Linked DNA regions of Homo sapiens: region 2 is linked to region 1. The links come from fine-mapping of genetic effects on gene expression. A gene starts in region 1. The other region holds a variant in brackets. All regions are shown on one strand. Distances are between the middles of the regions. Region 1 holds the start of ACOX2 (acyl-CoA oxidase 2). Region 2 overlaps FAM107A (family with sequence similarity 107 member A).

What was found.
Region 2: its variant is fine-mapped to the expression of ACOX2 in pancreas (GTEx, PIP above 0.99).

What each region holds. Positions count from the first base shown.
Region 1 is chr3:58,536,000-58,538,900 of GRCh38, forward strand. It overlaps ACOX2 (acyl-CoA oxidase 2), which reads right to left and starts at 1,191. Exons shown (of 15, transcript NM_003500.4): 1 at 1,120-1,191. LOC107984079 (a long non-coding RNA gene) reads left to right here. Exons shown (of 3, transcript XR_001740724.2): 1 at 1-315.
Region 2 is chr3:58,564,611-58,567,511 of GRCh38, forward strand. It overlaps FAM107A (family with sequence similarity 107 member A), which reads right to left. Exons shown (of 4, transcript NM_001076778.3): 3 at 2,598-2,754; 4 at 1-2,085. The coding sequence ends at 1,978. All of the region lies in intron 1 of LOC107984079 (a long non-coding RNA gene), which reads left to right. Among named protein-coding and RNA genes, the nearest start is that of FAM107A, 11 kb to the right of the region's middle. RefSeq lists enhancers at 1,087-1,611, 1,612-2,135. The variant G/T (reference allele first, on the strand shown) is at 1,556.

The DNA.
Region 1 (2,901 bases):
CTCTTGAACTGCAAATCACATTGTTTTCCTCTCCTGCTTGGAATCTGCTCCTTGGGGCCCACTGTTTGTGGAATGGAGTCCTTGCTGTGTCTACCCAACCCTACTCCACTCACCTCTCTCCTATGTCAACTTACTGCCCTCATCCCTGGCCTCCACTCATTCTCTTCCTACCCTTTGCCCCTGCTGTTCTCTCTGAACAAAGTTCAGCTCCCTCGTTCCCTGGGTGCTCTAGGGTTAGGGACAAGTTCTTATTTGCTTACATGTTCCTCCCACAAGGCCTGGGAGGCCAGCTCTGCATTTCCTAGCTTGCAGCAGGTATGTTGTAAATCTCTCCGGCAGGCTGCCATGCTTTTGATCCCCTTCCTTCCTGACCTCAACCTGACAGATGCACTGCTGTTATTACCATTTTATGGAGAGGATGTGGGCCTTGGAAAGGGAGGAGACTTTATAAGGGTCATGCAACCACATGTAGCAAATGATTCATATGAGGCTTTCAAACCAATACCCCCAGCAGGGCTGTGGGGGTGCTGGCAAGGGGCCCCATCCTCTGCCCCCCGGAGTCCTGCAAGTGCCCCTAGTGCGGCTCCTCTCGTCCTGCCTTACCTCTTTTCCTTGCTCTGCTGCCACTGCCTCCTTGCTGTTCTGAATGCTCCAGGCCTCCCTGCCACTGCCAGCATTTGCTAGGGCATCTCCATCTGCCCAGAACACCCTTTCTTCAAATGTCACTAGGGCTTTTTGCATTGAACCTCATTTAACCTTAAAGAGGCCACCCTCTTTAAAACCCCAAGCCCCCTCCCCCGGCATTCCCTGTCCTCCTCACTCTGCTCTCCTTTTTCTCTTTTCACTTATCCCCTTCTGACATTTGAGATCATTTACTCATTTCATATGTTTTTGTTTACTTCCATCTCCCTGCTACTAACACAGAAACTGCAAGAGGGCCGGGATCTTTGTCACTGTCATGCCGTGACCCTAACACTTAGTGCAGGGCCTGATTTGCAGGAGGTGCCCAGTGAAGAAAGCCTTGCTCAGGGTCTCTCGGAGCTGCGGACAGGGTCATCATGGGGGCAGCCCTCTCCTCTGGGGTCTCCCAGTCCCTCCCTGCCCAAAAACCTGGCTCACCTGGCTCCCCTCTGTCCTGTGTCCGCACTGTAGGCCGGGCTGGCCTCTCCCCGGCTGTAGGCCGCAGCCTCTGGCAGGCTTGTGGTCCTGCCCTTCTCTCCTCCCACATAGGGGCTGGAACACAGAAGCTGAGAGAAACTGCTTGGCCAGCTCTCAAGCCCTTGTCTGCTCTCAAGCCCTTGTCTGCTCTCAAGCCCTTGTCTGCTCTCAAGCCCTTGTCTGGGCTTATGGAGCTCCTCTCCTTCCTCCCTCTCTTCCTGCATGGGTGTGACCTTTGTGCCTGTCGCTGGGGCTGCCCTGGGAGGACTTCTGGGAGGTTGGAGCCCTTACATCTCAAAGCCAGGGATTCCTTTGACACTACTTGTACCAAAAAGCTGTGTACCCCAGCAGTGTTTCCAAAGTGATATCCTGGTCTTCCCTGATCTTTCACTGTGTGCCCTTCAGGCACTCAAGCTGTTAATATCACACGAGCTTAATAGGCTCCCCTGAGATGGTCCTCATGTGAAAGGATTGCTCTGTAAGGTGTACGTTTTTCCTCTCTCCCCATGTTTCTGCTCTAAAATATGGCTTGTCTTATGCTTAGCATCCCCTGACATTCCCTGGAAAAATATTTGTGAAGCATCCATCTGTAGTGTGTGGGATCCAGATGAGAGCTGGGTCTTAGTGAGAGGAATGAGAGGCTTAGAGGTTCCCTCCCTGCATAACCACCTTGGAAAGTCAGATGCGGCTCCCCATTTTGCAGGTAAGGAAACAGGCTCAGGGAGGGATGTCACTTTGTTTGGGTTTGCACAATAAGTAGATTACGTAACACATTTGTGTAAGACTGGGAAAGAAATCAAGGGGCCAGTAGGAGATCAAGGCTCCTGTTCTGGCAGGACTTCTGAGCTATGTTGACTCTGAGCAGGTGTACTCCTTTCTGGGCCTTGGCCTCCCCTGTAATGCAAGGTATTTGCTCAGTAAGGAGCCTCACAGCACCCCATCATATCCCCAAGGTAGTGTCTAGCTTGTGTCTGTAGGAAGAGGCAGGACCTGTGGCCCAAGCTTTGCAACTTATCACCTAGTAGGTCCTTCTGGAGCTGTGGGGCTCAGACTCCTGGCAGTCCTCATTGCTGTGGGCAGTGGTTTCAGGGAAGGTGGTCTTGGCCCCACTGTTTGGAGGTGAAAGTTCTTACTTACACCTGGACTCATCTCCGCCAAGGATTTATGCTATCACTGACCATGGGCAATGACTTAGTTCCTCTCTGCCATAGAGAAAGGCTTGGATTGCAGGAAGTGCCCAGTGAAGAAAGCCTTGCTCAGGGGCCCTTGGAGCAAGGCTTTTTAATAAACTCTCCATGTTTAAATTGTTTTCTCATCCGCTTTGAAGCTGACCCTGTTCTGTATGTTTTGGATGTGATCATTTTGATTTGTTGCACTGAAATCTTGAATTCTCTAGCTTAAAAAGGCTTTTTAAATTACAAAATATTTCAAACTTGTACAAAAGTGGAGAGAAAAATATAATGAACCTGCATGTACCTAACACCCAGCACTAACAATGATCACACTTGTCTCCTTGTTCTTTGTGTTTAACTTTTTATTTTGAAATAACTTTAGAATTTCAGAAAGCTGCAAAAAGTTCTTGTATATCCTTCACTCAGCTTCTTCTAAGGTACAATTATGAAACCAAGCCATTAACACTGCTGCAATATTGTCAGCTAATCTTCAGAACTTATTTGAGTGTGTCAGAGGTTCTCCAAGATCAACCTCAGGTCCAGTGATTTGCTAGGAAGACTCATAGAACTT
Region 2 (2,901 bases), 29 kb after region 1:
GGGGACCACTGGGTGAATCCCCAGGCATTCCCTTGGAGAGCCCTCGTCCATCTGAGACCCTCTGTCTTGCTTCTCTTCACATGTCTGAACAACACATGGACCCGAGGGCTGCTTCTTTGGGGAAGTGGTGATCTTTATTTTAGGGATTGTGCATCTTCAGTGTAACCCTCACCTGGCAGACATTAAACAGCGTAAACACATTCTCAGCACGCCAGTCACATTCAGGAGCCTCTTGGAGCTTGACTTATACACACGCACACAGGCGCAATATCTGCATTTACAGCCCTGTGCTGGCAGCACACACAGGAAAAGCACGACTTCAGTCACCCTCAAACCACCCAGTTATGAGTAAGACCAGAACAATCCCTTTCCTCCGACAGTCCCACGTTTGCTTCCAGGAATCAAAGAGCATGCCAGTGGCAGCTATCTGTGGCAGTTTTGGGAAAGTGAAAGGAGATGCTATTCCAGCACTGCTCTGTCACCTTAGATGATGGGTTTAGGAAGCCAGAGGCAGGGATTTCAGGGGAAAAGAAACAGGCCTGGTTTATTCTCTAATTCTTTAAAAATGGGATAGGAGCAAAAGGTTAAAATATGTGGGTCTCACACAGGAAAGGCCTTCTGAAGAAGAAAAATGGGTGAATTCACTGGAGTTGGCCCAGCTAGGGGTTGGGTCTCAGGTGACAGAGGCCGGGGATTCAGACTCAAAGGGGCCAGTCCATAAAGGTGGCAGTGGGGTCTTCAAACCACTGTTTCTATTCCAGAAGCCTACTGAAAATCATTGTATATTTGCTTTCCATAAGACTAGGAAAAAGTAAAAAAAAAAAATTTTTTTTTTTTTTTTTTTTTTTTTGGCTAGAATTGCATCGTAACAGTGTGGTCACACTGGTAAGAAATGCAGATTGGCAATCATGTACATCTCTGATTAAAACAACACTCACATAACCAACACAATTTGCTAGGCCAAAGTCTTCACGGGCAATCCCTGGGGTGGGAGTCTGGGATGGGGTGGATAATGAAGGATACCTGGGGTTGCAGAAGTGGGGTGGGAATCCCTGGGGCATCAGTCCACAGGAGGTGGGGGCCAGCGATGGCTTCAGGGGTGATATTTCCAATATATATCAGCCCTGGGCACTCTCGCCCTGCTGCTCACAGCATGGTCCTCACACCAGCAGCCTCCGCCTTACCTGGGAGCTTGTTAGAAATGCAGGATCTCCCAGATCTATTGAGTTAGAAGCTGTATTAACAAGATCCCCAGTGATTTTTATGCACAATCAAGTTTGTGAGGCACCGCTGCAGACTTCTGAGTGCAGGAATGCGGCAGCCCTGGGTAGGTGTGGTTAGAAGGCCTGGACGGGGAGGCTGTGCGGAGGGGATGATGAAAGCATGGGTGAGGGGAGAAGACCCTAAACAGCTGTCTTTGTTAGTCCCCGCCCACCTGGCCGGGATGCCAGCAACAAGGCCATCTGCAGTCTGCCCTGCCCTTCCTCCCCTCAGTGGCTTTGAAGGCAGGTGTCCTTGAAGCTAAGCTCTGCTGGCTGCAGGTAAAACCACAGGT[G/T]GGGGAGTTCTCTGAGACCTAGGAGCTGGGGTGTACGGAGAAGCGGGGCCCTGGGGAGCCTCGGAGATTCCTGGTGGGAAGGCCTGGGCAGAACAGAAGGCTTGTCAAGTCAGAGGGCCACCTCTTCCTCCTCAATTCTGCCAGAGAAAGCTCCTGTGCTGGGCTCTGAACCCCTTGCAGGGAGGGGTGCAGGTTATCCCTCTTGGAGCAGGAGGGCTGGGTGCTTGGAAGGAAAACCTAGGAGCTTAGGGGCCCCAGCCTCCCAGGGAGAGCCAGGCCCTCTGGGGTGACACATTTCTACAGAAGCAGGTGGGAACATCACAGACGTCCCAGGGCCTGGGGCCCAGGGCTGCCAGGTACAGAAGGGCTGAAGGAGGCTGTCCAGGCCAGGGTGGGCAGTGGCCTGAGCCCGGCAGCTGGCCCTACAGCTCTCTCTCTTCGCTGGTCAGTGTGGCAATTCTCCGCAGGTTTTCCCTGACTTTAATAAACTCGGGGGCGTGATCCTCTTCCTTCTCTGGTGGTTTTTCCAGCTGAAGGAGGGAGAAGCAGAGAGTGAAGTGGGTGGAGCTAGGGGGATTCCTACTCTGAAAACCTGTGGAGTTTGGACCAAGGGCCCACTCAGTGGGGAAACAGAACCAACCTGGGGATGAGTTTTGCTATCAGCCTGGTAGCTGGGGCACAGAGCATGAGACTGAGTTCTCCTTGTGCAGCCTGGTTCAAATCACTCACCCCCTCTGGGCCTCAGCTTCCCCATCTCTAAAATGGGAATGCCACCTGGCTCACAAGACAGTTATAAGAATGAAATCAGAATCAGCATGCAGTACACTGGGCCAGTGAGGAAGCTGAGGTTCAGGGAAGCCACTCGCCCTAAGGACCTAGCAAAGTGAATGGCAGAGGGAGGACTCAGGCCAGGAGTGGACTCTTAGTCCAGTGCTCTGTCTGCTGATCCTCTTCCCTCTTACTAGCTGTGGCCACAGCAGAGCTCCTCCCTGGAGGACAGCCCTGGAGGATGCGTGGTCCCTGCTGGGTGCCCATCACCCACCTGGTTCAGCCTCTGCTGCCGTCTCAGCAGCTCCTGCTCAAAGGGGCACTGCAGCCGCTTGGCTTCCAGCTCCTCCTTCTTCTTCTTGATGAGCTGGTTCCGCCGGCGGTGCTCTAGGACACGCTGCAGCTCTGGCTTGCTGTCCACACCAAGGCCCCTGGGGTGGGAAGTGGGGAGCTGTCAGGAGACCATCACCTTCCCGCTTCCCCCAGCCTCAGGGCTGCTTCCTGCGGTGACACCAACCCCCATTATTATCTTGTGCAATCCTCCCTGTAGCCTTGGAGGTGGACCCATTACTGTCCCA